Linked DNA regions of Homo sapiens: region 1 is linked to region 2. The links come from fine-mapping of genetic effects on gene expression. Tissue or cell type: whole blood. Region 2 holds a variant in brackets; the other region holds the start of a gene. All regions are shown on one strand. Distances are between the middles of the regions.

Evidence for each region. PIP is the estimated chance that this variant, and not a neighbour inherited with it, causes the effect.
Region 1: SLC25A25 starts here. The variant in region 2 is fine-mapped to the expression of SLC25A25 in whole blood (TOPMed, PIP above 0.99).

The regions. Positions count from the first base shown.
Region 1 is chr9:128,064,349-128,072,348 of GRCh38, reverse strand. It overlaps SLC25A25 (solute carrier family 25 member 25), which reads right to left and starts at 4,117. Exons shown (of 11, transcript NM_001330988.2): 1 at 3,769-4,117. The coding sequence starts at 4,029. NAIF1 (nuclear apoptosis inducing factor 1) reads left to right here and starts at 5,029. Exons shown (of 2, transcript NM_197956.4): 1 at 5,029-5,758. The coding sequence starts at 5,248. RefSeq lists enhancers at 3,011-3,090, 4,841-5,170 and a silencer at 3,821-4,390.
Region 2 is chr9:128,088,217-128,096,216 of GRCh38, reverse strand. All of the region lies in intron 1 of SLC25A25 (solute carrier family 25 member 25), which reads right to left. Among named protein-coding and RNA genes, the nearest start is that of SLC25A25, 24 kb to the right of the region's middle. RefSeq lists enhancers at 3,746-4,266, 4,267-4,787. The variant C/G (reference allele first, on the strand shown) is at 4,413.

The sequences.
Region 1 (8,000 bases), 24 kb after region 2:
CCATGGCAGATGACCCATTTTGACCCAAAGGGCCCCACAGTTCTCTTTCGGCTCCTGCTAGTTCTGCAAAGCCTCAGCACTGCTTTTTCTGTAGGCAGTTAATACTAATGCTAATTCAACAGGAAGTGGTATGGGGGTACAAGAGGCAGGATGTCTTCCTGTTGCCCAGTTATTTACAAAAAGGCAGATCTTCTCTCCAAGACTTCAAACGTTCCCCACAGGACTAACTTGTGCTCCTTTACAGGTAATGAGCTAATAAATTATTTCTGATCTCAAAGCTGTATAACAACTGAATTTGTTCAAAAGCCAAAAAAGTAGTAGAAATACAGTCTATACTGCCTGGTGCAGTTGCTCGCGCCTGTAATCCCTGAACTTTGGGAGGCCGAGGTGGGTAGATCACTTGAGGTCAAGAGTTCGAGACCAGCCTGGCCAACATGGTGAAATCCCTTGTCTCCTAATAGTACAAAAATTAGCCGGGCCATGGTGGCGGGCGCCTGTAATCCCAGCTACTCAGGAAGCTGAGGCAGGAGAACTGCTTGAACCCAGGAGGCAGAGGTTTCAGTGAAATCACACCATCGCACTCCAGCCTGGGCGACAGAGCGGACTGCTTCTCAAAAAAAAATAAAATAGATAAATAGGCCAGGCGCGGTAGCTCACGCCTGTAATCCCAGTGCTTTGGGGGGCCAAGGCGGGCAGATCATCTGAGGTCAGGAGTTTGAGACCAGCCTGGCCAACATGGTGAAACCCCATTTCTACTAAAAATACAAAAAAAAAAAAAAAATTAGCAGGGCGTGGTGGTGCGTGCCTGTAGTCCCAGGGAGGCTGAGCCAGGAGAATCACTTGAACCCAGGAGGCAAAGGTTGCAGTGAGCTGAGATCATTCCATTGCACTCCTGCTTGGGCAACAAAAGTGCAACTCCATCTCAGAAAAGTAATAATAATAATAGATAAATAAATGAAATACACTCTATACTAAACCCACACACCAAAAGAATAAAGAAATGCTTCCTATCATAGAACTTAGATCTGTCATGGAGTCAAAGATTTTAGAGTCAAAGTGACCCCAAGGGGCTAGGCTCTCTTTGGTTAATAAAAGTTTTCTTTCAAAACCAGAAAGAAAAATGATCACTTTCTCCTTATTTGCCCCGAGAAATTCACCACTAAAAAAACAGATTAGGATCAATATCAGATGTGCCTTGAATCTCGAGAACATTGTGACTCTAGTTGATGCACAAAGCATGGGGCAGACATTTAACATGCTCCCGCAGCCAGACGTTCTCAATGTGCCTGGCAGCAATGCCAAGTGGGTAGGTTCACAAAAGCAGAAACAGAAACCCTCTGGGTTTAGCCTTCCTATTTTTTCTTTTCTTTCTTTCTTTTTTTTTTTTTTTTTTTTTTTGAGATGGAGTTTCACTCTTGTTGCCCAGGCTGGAGTGCAATGGTGCAATCTCAGCTCACCGCAATCTCCGCCTCCCGGGTTCAAGCGATTCTCCTGCCTCAGCCTCCCGAGTACTGGAATTACAGGCATGCGCCACCACTCCCCGTTAATTTTGTATTTTTAGTAGAGACGGGTTTTCTCCAAATTGGTCAGGCTGGTCTCAAACTCCTGACCTCAGGTGATCCACCCGGCTTGGCCTCCCAAAGTGCTGGGATTACAGGCGTAAGCCACTGTGCCCGGCCAGCCATTCTACCTTTTCAAGTGAGTATTCATCAGATACATACAGGAAAATCTCCAGTTCACAACACTATTTTGTGTAAAACTGACTGGAAACATTACAAAACAAAACAAAACAAAAAAAACCTGTCTCTAGCCGGGTGCGGTGGCTCACGCCTGTAATCCCAACACTTTGGGAGGCCGAGGCAGGTGGATCACCTGAGGTCAGGAGCCCGAGACCAACCTGGCCAACATGGTGGAAGCCTATCTCTACTAAAAATACAAAAATTAGCTGGGTGGCCGGGCGCGGTGGCTCATGCCTGTAATCCCAGCACTTTGGGAGGCTGAGGCGGGCGGATCACAAGGTCAGGAGATCAAGACCATCCTGGCTAACACGGTGAAACCCCATCTCTCTTAAAAATTCAAACAAAAAAAAAATTAGCTGGGCATGGTGGCGGGCACCTGTAGTCCCAGCTACTAGGGAGGCTGAGGCAGGAGAATGGCGTGAACCCCGGAGGCGGAGCTTGCAGTGAGCCAAGATCGCACCACTGCACTCGAGCCTGGGTGACAGAGTGAGACTGTCTCAAAAAAAAAAAAAAAAAAAAAAAAAATTAGCTGGGTGTGGTGGCACATGCCTGTAATCCCAGCTACTAGGGAGGCTGAGGCAGGAGAATGGCGTGAACCCGGGAGGCGGAGCTTGCAGTGAGCCAAGATCGCACCACTGCACTCGAGCCTGGGTGACAGAGTGAGACTCTCTCAAAAAAAAAAAAAAAAAAATTAGCTGGGTGTGGTGGCACATGCCTGTAATCCCAGCTACTGGGGAGGCTGAGGCGGGAGAATCTCTTGAACCCAGGAGGCGGAGGCTGCAGTGAGCCAAGATTGCACCAATGCACTCCAGCCTGGGAGACAGAACCAGACTCCGTCTCAAAACAAACAAACAAAAAAAACTTGTCTCTAAATCTCCTGGACTTAACCATTCTATCTTGCGTAGTGTTACTCTTGGTCCTCCTAGGCTGATCCTAATAGTTAGCGCTAAATACCTTGGATGTTGATCCAAGAATCTTGAACATGAGTTAACAACACCTATGTACACCCACCCAACAAATTGGTTTAATTCATTGGCGGTTTACCAGATTCTTTTCATACTTGGCTACGAGATTCTCTAATTGTCATGTGTACAAATGGACCAAACTAACTCAGCAGTGAAACAGGTTCTTAGGTAAAGTACTCAGGAGTCCTATTCCAGGCTGTAAATCAGGCTAAGCTACAGTAAATGAAATACTTGGGAAAATGGCAGCTACACCCGCCAAGTCAGACTGAAGGGGGAAGAGACAGAAGGGAAAGAAACAGCCTCTGCTCTGAGGTTCTCATACAGAAAGGCCAGCACTTCTCTTCCTGGCAGGCCCAGGGATGACCATTTCTCTGCGCCCCTATGCCCACACCTCGGCCAAGAGCCCACAATAGTAACAATCTCGCTTTGACTTTTAGAAAAAAAATTTCCCCCGGATTCTTTCACTCCGTCCACACTCCAACCCCGCGGGGATCACGATCCCATTTTCTGGATAAACAGGGCAATGGAGATGAGCCTAAACCATGAGAACTGTCAGTCTTCGCCGCCAACGTCCACACGGATCAGCCTGAAACCCCAATACCAATTTTTTTTTCAACTCCCACATGTTCCTGAGAGGAACCAGATCAGGGCCCACGGCTGGCATGGAAACGAGAGGGAAAGGAGGGGGTGCTGCTGGGGACTGATGGATGAACCCATCCTTGGGTGAAGGGAGCGTCCAGCTTGGCCTTGAGGTCAGGAGGTGACAAAGGCACACTCCTGAGACCTGGCCTTCTACTCTGGGCAAGAAAGGGCTTTTCGCCCATCAGAAAGCCCATAGGATGCCCACCTGTGTCCACGAAGAACCCGGCTCAAGCACCCAAAGAAGTCAGGAAGGAGCCCCGCTCCCACCAGGGCATAAGTGGGGTGTCCCTCAGTGAGTCAGGGGGCACCCTTCCTCTGGACAGTGGGGGTTCCGCCCAGCCCAAGGGGCCGTCCCCCGAGACCTGTCACCCGGCCCTCGAGGGGCTCCCTCCCCGCCAGTGCTGAGGACGCGCGCAGCCTACCTGGAGCTCGCCCTCGGTGCGGTGCAGTCCCAGGCGCCGCAGCCCCACCGCCAGGTCGTTGACACACAGGCCGCCGTCCCGGTTGACGTCGAGCGTCTGAAAGAGTCTCCACAGGCGCAGCCGGTGGTCCGGGCCCCCGCAGATAGCGCCGCCGCAGGGGTCCCCCACGGACGCCGGCGATGAGGCAGACGAAGAGGCGGCGGTGGCGGCGGCGTCCGGCGGCGGGGAGGCCACACAGCGGCACAACACACTGCTCACCATCGGGCGCGAGGCAGGGGCTCCGGGCGCGGGCGGGAGCGGGGGCGGCGGGCCGGCGGTGACCGCGCGGGAGGCAAGCCAGGCGCTCTGCAGCTGGGAGCGCGGGCTCGGAGACGCCGGCAAGCTGGCGGAAGGGGCGGCTTCCGGGAGCCCCGCCCCTCCGCGCCCCGCTTCGCCGGCCACGCCCGGGCGCACCGAAGGCCAGTCACAGGCTCGGATGGGGAGGAGGGAGGGGCGGAGCCTGTCTAAGGACAGCCCACGCGCCACGGACTACCCGGATCAATGGGGTGGGCGGGGTCACCCGGCTCCGCCTGGGGCCGATTCAAACTGAGGGAGGCGGGGATTGGCTGAGCCGGGGGCCAAGAGAGAGAAAATCACGCAGCGATAGGCATGAGTAATGTGATTGGCAGGCGGAAGGCCCCGTGTCCAGTTTCCATTGATGAACTAACTCTGTTTAGACTGCGGGATCTTAAGGATGGGAGGAGCGGTAGTGTACGGAGAGATCGTAGCCTCCAGTGGGAAACAGGATTTGTGTGAGAGCATTTGTGAACTGCAGTTGCGAGGCAGAGTTTGTGCCGGTGGGAGGAATTAAAAGTTAATTGACCCATGGGTCACGGCCGAAAGCACTAAGTATCCTCAGGAAGCAGGGTTTTGGTAATCTAACTCCCTAAACCACCAATAAAATAGCTGAATTTAACGGCTTAATAGTCGTAATACTGACAATTGAACGACAGAATGATTTTCCAATGGAAGTGAATAAAGGTTAGGTGGGCGGGGCCCTCTGGGCGACGGACACAATTTTAGACCAATGATCAGGCGAATTACAGTAAGCAGGCGTGCTCTTTAGCTGAGCGACAGATCGAAAGAACCAGTGATCGACGTGATATTTGAGCAGCTACCAACCGGGAAGGCCGGTTTTCCCGGAGAAGCGCTGGGAGGCGGGAAGAGGGGAAGTGGGCGGATCTCCGCACACCTCGGCGGAAGAGGCAGATTCAGGAAGCCATTACGCTGCTGGCTGGCAGCGGCCGGGCCGGTCGGGGCTGGGCCCTACGCACTTTGCGTAGCGAGGGGGGTTACCAAAGGCCTAGTGCTTGGCCTCGAGCAAGCCTGGCCTATCCCCTGTAGGGGGTGGGTGAGGGGCGAGGCTGAGGAAGAAGAGAAGGGGAATTGGGGCGCTTGAGGGGATTATAATTTCTTTAAAAAGAGGGGAGGGGAGAGGCCATGGCCGTCCCAGCCAAGAAAAGGAAGATGAACTTCTCAGAGCGGGAGGTGGAGATCATCGTGGAGGAGCTGGAGCTGAAGAAGCACCTGCTGGTGAACCACTTCAACGCCGGGGTACCCCTGGCCGCCAAGAGTGCGGCCTGGCACGGCATCCTGAGAAGGGTCAACGCCGTGGCCACCTGCCGCAGAGAGCTGCCTGAGGTCAAGAAGAAGTGGTCTGACCTCAAGACCGAGGTCCGTCGCAAGGTTGCCCAGGTCCGGGCCGCCGTGGAGGGTGGTGAGGCGCCGGGGCCCACTGAGGAGGACGGAGCTGGGGGGCCTGGGACAGGCGGTGGCAGTGGTGGCGGTGGCCCAGCTGTAGCCCCAGTGCTGCTGACCCCCATGCAACAACGTATCTGCAACCTGCTGGGCGAGGCCACCATCATCAGCCTGCCCAGCACCACAGAGATCCACCCTGTGGCCCTCGGACCCTCGGCCACCGCAGCCGCAGCCACGGTCACCCTGACACAGAGTGAGTGACCTCTCCTGCCCAGGCGGCGTGCATAAGTGGGAAGGGCCAGCAAGCTCTGGGGTGGCCTGGGGAAGGTTGGCTGCCAAGGGTCAGAGGTCAGATGGGGGTCTTGGAAGACCATGAGGCCTTCCAAGAGCAGCACCCAGACAGAAGTGATCTTGCTCTCTTTGGGACTTCCTCAGCACGTGGGCTGGACTTCTGACGTGCTGGATAGCTCGCCACTGAGCATTGCCACCATGTTTGTCCATGACTTACCTCCACTTGCCGAACTGGGTGGTCCTTGAAAACAAGAGACCGTGTCTGTATCCCCACAGGACTTTTCACAGGGCCCGGCTTGTAGTAGACAGCCAGGCCATATTTGTTGAAAAAATTGATGGGAATAATACTGCCCAAGTGAGACAACGATTCTGGATTCTGTTTTCAGTGTGGGGGATCTTTCATCAGGTGCTGCTCAGGAGCCTCATGGTTCCTGGTGTTAATCTACTCCATTCATTCATTCATTCATTCATCAAACATTAGCACTTATTCTGTACCAAACCCTGTGCTGGGCACTGGGATTACCAAGTTGTCTAAAATACAGGCCAGTTATGTTCTAGTAGGACAGAGATGACACATATAGGAATAGCTTCGCCATCAGTTGGGAAAACCTCAGGCCCCGGAAGAGGAAGGGGGCTTCTTGGTGGCATAAGGACACATAGCTGACATTGGCGTTGAAGGGTGGAGGAGCTTGACCTCTCCCACATGCGCGGAGGCCCATACAGCCCAGCCAGGATCCTTTCCGTGGTTCTCAGGAATGACAACAGAACTAACTTTGGTTGGATTTTTTAGTTCAAAGAAGAGTTTGTGCCCTGTTACCTCTGCTCGTTTGTGATGACCGTGAGCTGGATCATTCAGTGATTCTCAGTGGGGGTTGGGGGAGTTGGGTGGATGTGCGAGTGCCATCCCCTCACAATGCGTATTTCTCAAGAATACACTGGGGTGGGGTAAGGGGGACAAACACGGGTCTAGGTCAGATGCTGTTCTGGAACAGGAAGGATGTTTAAGTATCGGATTGACCCAGATGATGACAGACAGGGAGACATTGACTGGGTACTTTAGCTACTGCTGCCCCATTCCCACCTCCTTTTCTGCTTCGCCATAGGGGCCTAGGAAGTCAAGTCAAGAAAGCATCAAAGGGCTGGCATGGTGGCTCACTCCTGTAATCCCAGCACTTTGGGAGGCTGAGGTGGGCAGATCAGTGGAGGTCAGGAGTTCGAGACAAGCCTGGCCAATATGGTGAAACCCTGTCTCTACTAAAAATACAAAAATTACCCAGGCTTGGAGGTGGGCGACTGTAGTCCCAGCTACTCGGGAGGCTGAGGCACAACAATCACTTGAACCTGGGAGGCAGAAGTTGCAGTGAGCCGAGATCGTGCCACTGAACTCCAACCTGGGTAACAGGGCAAAAGAGCAAAACTCCGTCTCAAAAAAAAAAAAAAAAGCAGAAAGCATCAAAGGAGGTAGGACTAATGTGGCTGCAAAGAGCGTGTGTAGAGTCCCACCCAAGATGCCTGCTGCATGGTACCACAGAGAGCATGTGACCCAGCCTCTGGGGTGCCTTTCTTTCTTTCTTTCTTTTATGAGATGGAGTTTTGCTCTTGTTGCCCAGGCTGGAGTGCAATGGCATGATCTCGGCTCACTGCTGCCTCAGCCTCCCAAGTAGCTGGGATTACAGGCATGCGCCACCATGCCCGGCTAATTTTGTATTTTTAATAGAGACGAGGTTTCTCCATGTTGGTCAGGCTGGTCTCGAACTCCTGACCTCAGGTAATCCACCCACCTCGGCCTCCCAAAGTGCTGGGATTACAAGCGTGAGCCACCGCGCCCGGCCGGGGGTGCCTTTCTTAGCTAGGAGCAGCCCAGCGTGGAGGTCAGGAGCACATCGGGCTCTGCTGTTGGGGAGACCTGGGTTTGCCTCTTGGCTCTGCTGAATGAGCTCTGTGACCTTAGCAAGTCATTCTACATTTCTCAGTCTGTTTCCTCATCTCTGAAAAATGAAGATGACAGCACCAACCTCTTGGTGTCATTTTGAGGATTTGTTGAGCTAATGAGTACAAAGTGCCTGACATGTAGTAGTTGCTCTAAAAGTTTTGCTAGTATTATGATCAACATCTTTGCTTTTGCCAGATCCAGGGCTGGCCCTTTGATTACCAAGTAGATTAAGATTCTGAACCCCGGCCAGGCGCGGTGGCTCACGCCTGTA
Region 2 (8,000 bases):
TATTTTAAAGGAGGTTCACATTTATAAATAAAAGCTGAACCCTAAAATGCTGGTCTTTAGGAATGCTCACTCTACTTTATAAAATGAGATGTTGCCCTATTAAAAAAAATGCTGGTCTTCCTTTGTTAAATTATTGTTTGCTTCTGAAACTAAATTATACAGATCTGTTGAATATCTCATTTTAGTGATGACTGCAGTCATTCTAATATAAAAAAGCAAATATTTTGACTGAATAAGTTCAATTGGAGATTTCACTTTCTATTAAAGTATATTTTAAAAATAATTATGGCACATATTACTGTACCATTGAGTTTTATAATGTATTTAACAAAAGAAATCTGAGATTTGAAAATGATACTAAATAAAAGTGAAACCTGTATTCTTCTTCTTTTTTCTTTGTCTTTCCTAAGATGGAGTCTTGCTCTGTCGCCCAGGCTGGAGTGCAGTGGCGCGATCTTGGCTCACTACAACCTCCACCTCCTGGGTTCAAGCGATTCTCCTGCCTCAGCCTCCCGAGTAGCTGGGACTACAGGTGCCCACGAGCACACCCAGCTAATTTTTAAAAGGGTTCTAACTTATTTGCTGCTGTGACTGAGTCTCATGGAATGTCTTCATTGGATAAACTTCAATTGGCATTTGGTTTTTTAAATCATCCATCCTACTGAGTTTCACAGGTAACTCAAGACTCCATGTTCATATAAAAATGGAGAGTTCTACCCAAATAAGCCCATCTCTAGGTGCTAGTGTCCAGGACAACTGCTGTATTCCTGGAACTGCAGACTGTGGGGGCCCAGAGGGGCTCTGGGATCATCCCTTAATCTCCGAGTTGAGCAAACAGGCCTGGGAGAGGCGACCTGATTTGCCCAATTCCCAAAGCCTGTCAAGGGCAGGGCAGGGCCTTGCACCCAGGGTTCTTGTTACAACATCCACTTCAAACAGCACCCAAAACAGATTTTAGTATTCAGTTCCCAAAGGATGCCGGTAAGCCAGACAGTAGGTGATACCTCATACTGGAAGGCGGCAGGTGTGTGGGAAAGGTGTAACTTGAGCAAGTTGAGCCCTAGCTAAATACAACCAAAAACGGTGTTTGTGTCACAGCTTCTGAATGCCTCTGTGAGAACTAGATTATGGAGGAACTAAAGCAGGCCTCGGGTTTCAGCCCTGATGCTTCACACCGGCCTTCTTGACACTCCAAGATCTGGGCACAACGCGCATTGTGTGCGATGCCTCGCTGCTCTTTATTATTCTGACTTTGTGGCACAGACCCTCATCTGTTTCAGCTCCTCCGATGTCCATTCCTATGACTAGTATTCGGAAACAGTGACAGCAACACTAGGTCCCTTAGGATTCAGTGGCATCAGATTGCAATTAATCTATAAAGTAGCAGTTCCTCTCCTGAGCATCTTCTCACAGCAAATCTGCCAATGCCACCAAAAGCTTTCCTTGTTCTACCACTATGTTACATGCCAGAAGAAAGCAGGTGCTTCAGGTAAAGGCCGGAATACCATGAATAAGAACAGGGCAGGTACAGTGCCTCTGGGAGTGTAGCATTAGGTCAGAAAGTTCCTCTCCCCTCCTCTGCAATGACTCAGGCTGAGCCAGAAATATTAATATGAGGAAGCTTTGCCAGCATCCAGCCGCTCAAGCCCCACCCACCCTTAAGGCTCTCAAACCTCATTGGCGGCTGTGGCCACAGTGTCATTTGATGATCAGGTTGCCATGACAGCCTAGTGTAGCCAGTTTCCAATGAAACCTGCCTACACTTGGCAGTTACACACACAATAAGCAAAATTCTCTGTGCTTCCGAGAAGACAGCCCCTCAGGATTTGAAAGCTTGAATGCCGCTGAGGGCACCTCCCACTCCAGAGTAATGGCTTTCTTCTCCAACTGAAGATTAACTGTAAGACAAAGATAAAGGGAAAAACTGGAACAGTTCCTAGAATAAAAGCTTGCAGGAACCTGACTCACTAGCAGACATATTTAAACAGGGGAAGTGAGAGCAAAACAAAGTAGTGCTTCTGGGACACTGAGAAGCCCGAGAACCAAAGTGAACTTTTCTTTTTTTCTTTTAAACAGAGTCTTGCTCTGTCACCCAGGCTGGAGTACAGCGGCACAATCTTGGCTCACTGCAACCTCCGCCTCCTGGATTCAAGCGATTCTCCTGTCTCAGCCTCCTGAGTAGCTGGGAGTACAGGCACGCACCACCACGCCCAGCTAATTTTTGTATTTTTAGTAGAGACGGGGTTTCACCATATTGGCCAGGCTGGTCTCAAACTCCTGACCTCGTGATCTGTCCACCTCAGACTCCCAAAGTGCTGGGATTACAGGCATGAGCCACTGCGCCTGGCCTAAAGTGAACTTTTCAAAAATGTTTCCAGAACATTCTGGAGGTCCTTTTTGTGATTTGGTGAGGCCAGCCCCAATCAGCCAGTGATCACAAACCCCAAACACCTTCAGAGCACTGTTCTGGAAAAGGATGCGGGCTGCATCCATGTTCCTGTTACTCCAGTTCTTGGTCTATCTGCTTTGAGAGTCTATGCTTCTCAGATTTGCTTTCTCTCTGGCTTCAAGCCCAACCAGCTGCCCCATATCCCACTTGGGGCTCCCCCAGTTTGCAGCCAGCTGAACTGTCTCTCTTTTGGGGATCAGCCAGTAAAAGGTGTGGGTCTCTTGATTCTGCAGGCCAGGAACTAAGCTGTTCAGAACAGACAGTCCTATCCTAGGCAGTCCCTGGGGGGAGAGCTGGCAAGGGGGTACTGTATGATGCTGAAAAATAGAGCAGTTAACTGCTAAAGACAAAAATAGGTGATTTTAAAAGGAGCCGGCCATTCGAGGTAGTAATAAGGCAAGCAGGTCTATAGATAAAAGTTCCTCACAAAGCTAGTGCCACAGCCATTCCAATCTTGTCTAAAACAATCAAAAGGTACAAAGTGACACCCTCTCTTTGAATATTAAGCAAAGACATCTCAGGCATAACAGTCTCTGAGAGACCCACTGCTTTGCTCAGAAGGAACCCATCAAAGACGAAGACTTCTCCCCAGTGCCCACATGACTGCAAATGTTATTACATCAAAAGTCCCTAGTAGCAAAGGCAAAATGAGCTTTTATTTCTTAAATGTAGCAATTCATCTTAACATCTCTGTGGTATCTATAATGTGCCAAACGGGCAGAATCTCCTTTTCTTCTCTGATTTTTCTCCTAAGTAAAAAGATTGAAAATAACCAAAGCTCAGGAGGTGAACGAGGTCACTCCTACAGCAGGGAGGAGAAATCTGAGCCAAGTGGCAATTTCCTTTCTAATACTGAGCACTCCATTAGTCTCCTTAAAAACTGCTTTCCTAAGGGGAAAACGAGGCAGCACAGGACAAGGATTTGGGGGTGAAATCTCAGCTCCACCTCTCTTTAGTTGTTTAACCCTGGGCAAATAATGTAACCATTCTGCACCTCAGTTTCTTCATCTACGAAATGGGGATACTACCACTTACCTTGGCTCTTGTGAGGATGGTAACTCACGCTCTGGGCTCAGGAAGGATGAAAGACCCCACAGTTGGCAGACCCGCAGCGGCCGCAGTCATTTCCAGAGGGGCACCAGCCTCTGCGCCTCATGACTCCAGCCTCTCCTCGGACCCAGTCTCATGCCTTCACTCTTCCTCCCAGACCCAAAGGAGAGATGGGTCGGACCCAGGCAAGGGGACTGTGACCTTCAGGATGCCAAGACCACCCCCACAGCTCCAAGCAACTGGGTTCCACGGTCGAGGCACACTCTCTCGCCCCTTTAGCTTCGCCCTTCCTGAGCTGTTCGGATAAGCTAAGGCACACTTTCACAGGCTGCCCCTCACTTTCAAATGGCTTTCTTCAGCCAAACTAACAAATCCTAAGGCAAGTCTATTGCAACCTTCCTTCCCTCAACAGCCACACTGGGGTGCTCGCAGTGGGTAATGCAGCTTTCACAGGGGCCACAGAAAGATTTTAGATTGCATTTGTGGGCTTCCTCATTGCCTACCACTTCTCCCTGAACCCCGAACTAACGTTGTGAGTTCTCCCTTCCTCCCCACACTCGTTTTTTCCCCAGGAAAATGATCCCAGACCAGGCCCTAAACTAGGAGGTCCTCTTGAGGCCAACATTACCTTAGGAAACTGCTCTGCAGGTCCAACCACCAGCAAAATGGTGGGTCTTTTTTCCGTGGCCTCAGCCCTTCCGTCCTGTTTCCCCAAAAAGCTTGCCATCTGGTCTCTCCAGGCAGGGGCTGGGGTGCCTCTGACTTCACGATCGTCCCCCTCTCTGGAGCCGTGGCACCCAGCCCTGGGGAAAAAGCTAGCTAGGAAATGCCACAGCATCTGCAACATCACGGTCTCCTCCAAACGCCTCTGATGGCGACTGTTCACTTTTGAGGGATGTGACCACAGTACCAA[C/G]GCTCTCTGGCTACACAGCTGCTGGGAGGACGGGCCTGGGGTTCTCAGGCTGGAAGCTCTGCATGCAGGGGCGGTTTCCTGCTTTTTCAAATGTGCTAGCACTGCTGTCGTGCCCGGCCTGAGAAGTAGCTCACTCTAAGGGAGGCTTGCCAGGCTGCCGGCAATAAGGAGAAAGCAGCTGGAGCTTCTTCAATAAAAACTCACTTCTGCAGGTGATGGTGAGCAAACGTTTGGCTTTTTTTTAAAAAAAAAAAAAAAGAAAAGGAAAACGCGACAGCCAAGCAGACCACTCCCGGAGGCAGCAAGCAACTTCGAGCTCCCAGTTATTCAGCTGTCCTCGCTCATCACCCAAGCCGAGGACCCGAGCATCCAGTCTGCATTCTCACTGCAGCAGAGCCCGGCCAATCACCTCTGCCGACACTACCAAGTTCATTATCCCTACCAGCACCAGCCCTCCAATCACAGGCAGCTGATTGCCTGCATGAAGCCCGGCAATTCTGCAGGGAGGTGCGGACTCAAGCTCCAGATGAGGCTCAGCTTACAGAATCCACTCTGAGCTGGCTCCGTAGCAAAAGTAACTCCCTGCCCTCCACTCGGGTTGCTTCCAGAAGGCATTCACCATCAAGTGCAACACCATCAAGAGTCCTTGGCAGCATGTCCTAAGAGCATTCTAGAAACATTTTTCCTTGTTTCAAGATCCAGTTTTCTCCAGCAGAGCACATGCCACATCACAGCAGCTACTTCTGCTGCGTCTCCCTCCAGAAGATGAGCTGCCTGGGGGCAGGGACCAAGTCACAGACCTTTCTACCCCTAGGACCAGGCACAGATTAAGTCTGTAGACCGAACTGAGTAAAAGGTCATAAATAAAAAGGAATTAATCTATGGTCATTTGTTTCTTAGTTTACTAACAGATAAATGCACTGGCTACTGTCATTCCTCGCTGAGGTGACCCTCTGATAGTGTTCACAACCTTTATTGATTGATTGATTGATTGAGATGGAGTCTCGCTCTGTCATCCAGGCTGGAGCGCAGTGGGTCGCTCTTGGCTCAACGCAACCTCCACCTCCCAGGTTCAAGCGAATTCTCCTGCCTCAGCCTCCCAAGTACCTGGGATTACAGGCACCTGCCACCATGCCTATCTAATGTTTGTATTTTTAGTAGAGACGGGGTTTCACCATGTTGACCAGGCTGGTCTCAAACTCCTGACCTCAAGTGATCCATCCACCTTGGCCTCCCAAAGTGCTGGGATTACAGGAGCGAGCCACCGCGCATGGCCCCACAACCATTATTTTAAAAATACAAACACAAGGCCGGATGTGGTGGCTCATGCCTATAATCCCAGCACTTTGGGAGGCCAAGGCAGGCGGAGTTCAAGACCAGCCTGGCCAACATGGTGAAACCCCGTCTCTACTAAAAATAGAAAAATTAGCCGGGCATGGTGGCAGGCGCCTGTAATCCCAGCTACTTGGGAGGCTGAGGCAGGAGAATCACTTGAACCCAGGAGGCGGAGGTTGCAGTGAGCCAAGATTGCACCATTGCACTCCAGCCTGGGTGACAAGAGCGAAATTTCATCTCAAAAACAAAAAACAAAAAAAAACCAACTTGTTAAATGACAAAGTATAGAAGAAAGGGGATTGTGTGCTGCCATTTATTCCTAGCTTTTATTTGTGAAGACGGCCTCTGGAAAGATAATTAAATTGAAGAGAGGGTGTGGGGCGGGGAGGACACTTGGGGCTTTGAGAGGAGAAAGGCAGATGAGAGACGTGTTTTCACCGAACATCCTCTTATATCTTGCGAAACTGAACCATAAGCATGTATGACCCAGGCATACACACATACACATGTAAATAAAACAATCATTGAAAAAGAAGGCCGAGCGCAGTGGCTTACACCTGTAATTCCAGTACTTTGGGAGATGGAGGTGGGCCAACTGCCTGAGCCGACGAGTCTGAGACCAGCCTGGACAATGTGGAGAAACCTGCCTCTTCAAAAAGTAAAAAAAAAATAGCCAGGCATCGTGGTGCCTGTTGTAGTCCCAGCTACTCAGGAGGCTGAGAGGTGGGAGGATCACTTGAGCATGGGTGGTCAAGGCTGCAGTGAGCCATCATCGTGCCACTGCAGTCCAACCTGGGTGACAGGGAGATCCTGTCTCAAAAAAAAAAAAAAAAAAGACAATCTGGAGAGAAAGTAAGATGGTTGAGATGGGGTCCTAAGGCTTGTTCTGAAAGCTGAAGGAGCCTGTATCAGTTGCCCTCTCACTAGATAAACAGAACTTGTCCAGAAGCAGTTTTGCATGTTGATTAAATGCACAGTCACTGGAGCCAGACCCCAAATTCCAATCCTGGCCATCACTTATTAGCTGTGTAATCTTGGCTAAGATACTTCAGCTCTCTGTGCTTCACTAGCCTTATGTGCAAAATGGAGTTAGTACTTCATAGAATTGGTTAAAGACTAAATTAGAGAATATATAAAGTTCTTAGGACAGTACATGGAGCTATTAGCTATTTTATTATTATTATCTACAAAATGATTGCGATTCATGCAACTAGATCATTTTAATACTAAAGAAGAGCCAGTCCACAGCCAAAAACCCTAAGTAAATAAAAATCCTTTGGCCAGGAGTGGTGGTTCACGTCTGTAATCCCAGCACTTTTGGGAGGCCAAGGCAGGTCTTTTGAGCCCAGAGTTTGAGACCGGCATGGCCAACATAATGTGACTCTGTCTCTACAAAAAAATCAAAAATTAGCTGAGCATGGTGGTGCGCACCTGTAGTCCCAGCTACACGGGAGGCTGAGGTGGGAGAATCACCTGAGCCTGGGAAGTGGAGGCTGCAGCCTGGCTGACAGAGTGAGACCCTGCCTCAAAAATAAATAAATAAATCCTTTAATGAATGTGAGCCCTGTTTTTAGGCACAGAAAGTCTGGCCAGATGGAGGAGATAGTGATGTTTTGGCCTCCCATCTACACACATAAGAGAAATCCCTTATTTAGTAGATTACCGCTTTTTGATTTAATGCACTTCCTCCTACCACAGAACTGAGTTATGAGTTCAAGGGCTTCCGGCAAAGATAGGAGTAACAGGGACTAAGTCACCTTCCTGCCTATAACTACAAGTGCAAACAAAACATAGAAAACAATCTTTCCCAGCCGCTGGACAACAGGCTAAGGACACTGATTCCTGAGAAATGTATACAATGTATACAAACGAAGCCAGGAGCGCCTCCCATTGCCCCAGCTTCCTGCCTGGAGCTTCCAGTCTAGGTGCAGAGCAGAGAAGCCAGGTGGAACCCAGCAGCCTCCTGATGTTCAAGAGATGGGGCTGAGAGGCTGGGGAGGCCAGGCCAGGGCAGCTAGAGTGTGCCAGACAAAGCGCCGGAGAGGAGAGAGCTGCACAGGGAGTGAGCTCCCCCAAGGGTCCCCAGGGAGTCACAGCGCATGGGTGGGAGGAACCTACCTGAGCATGGGGAAAGAACCATCCCAAAGGATTACAGGGCTAGGAATAGTTCCCGTTCCTGTCAGCCAGAGTGGAAAACCTCAGAATACAGGGAGGTTCAGAAAGAGTGCTCAGAGGGTTTTGCCTCTACAGTGA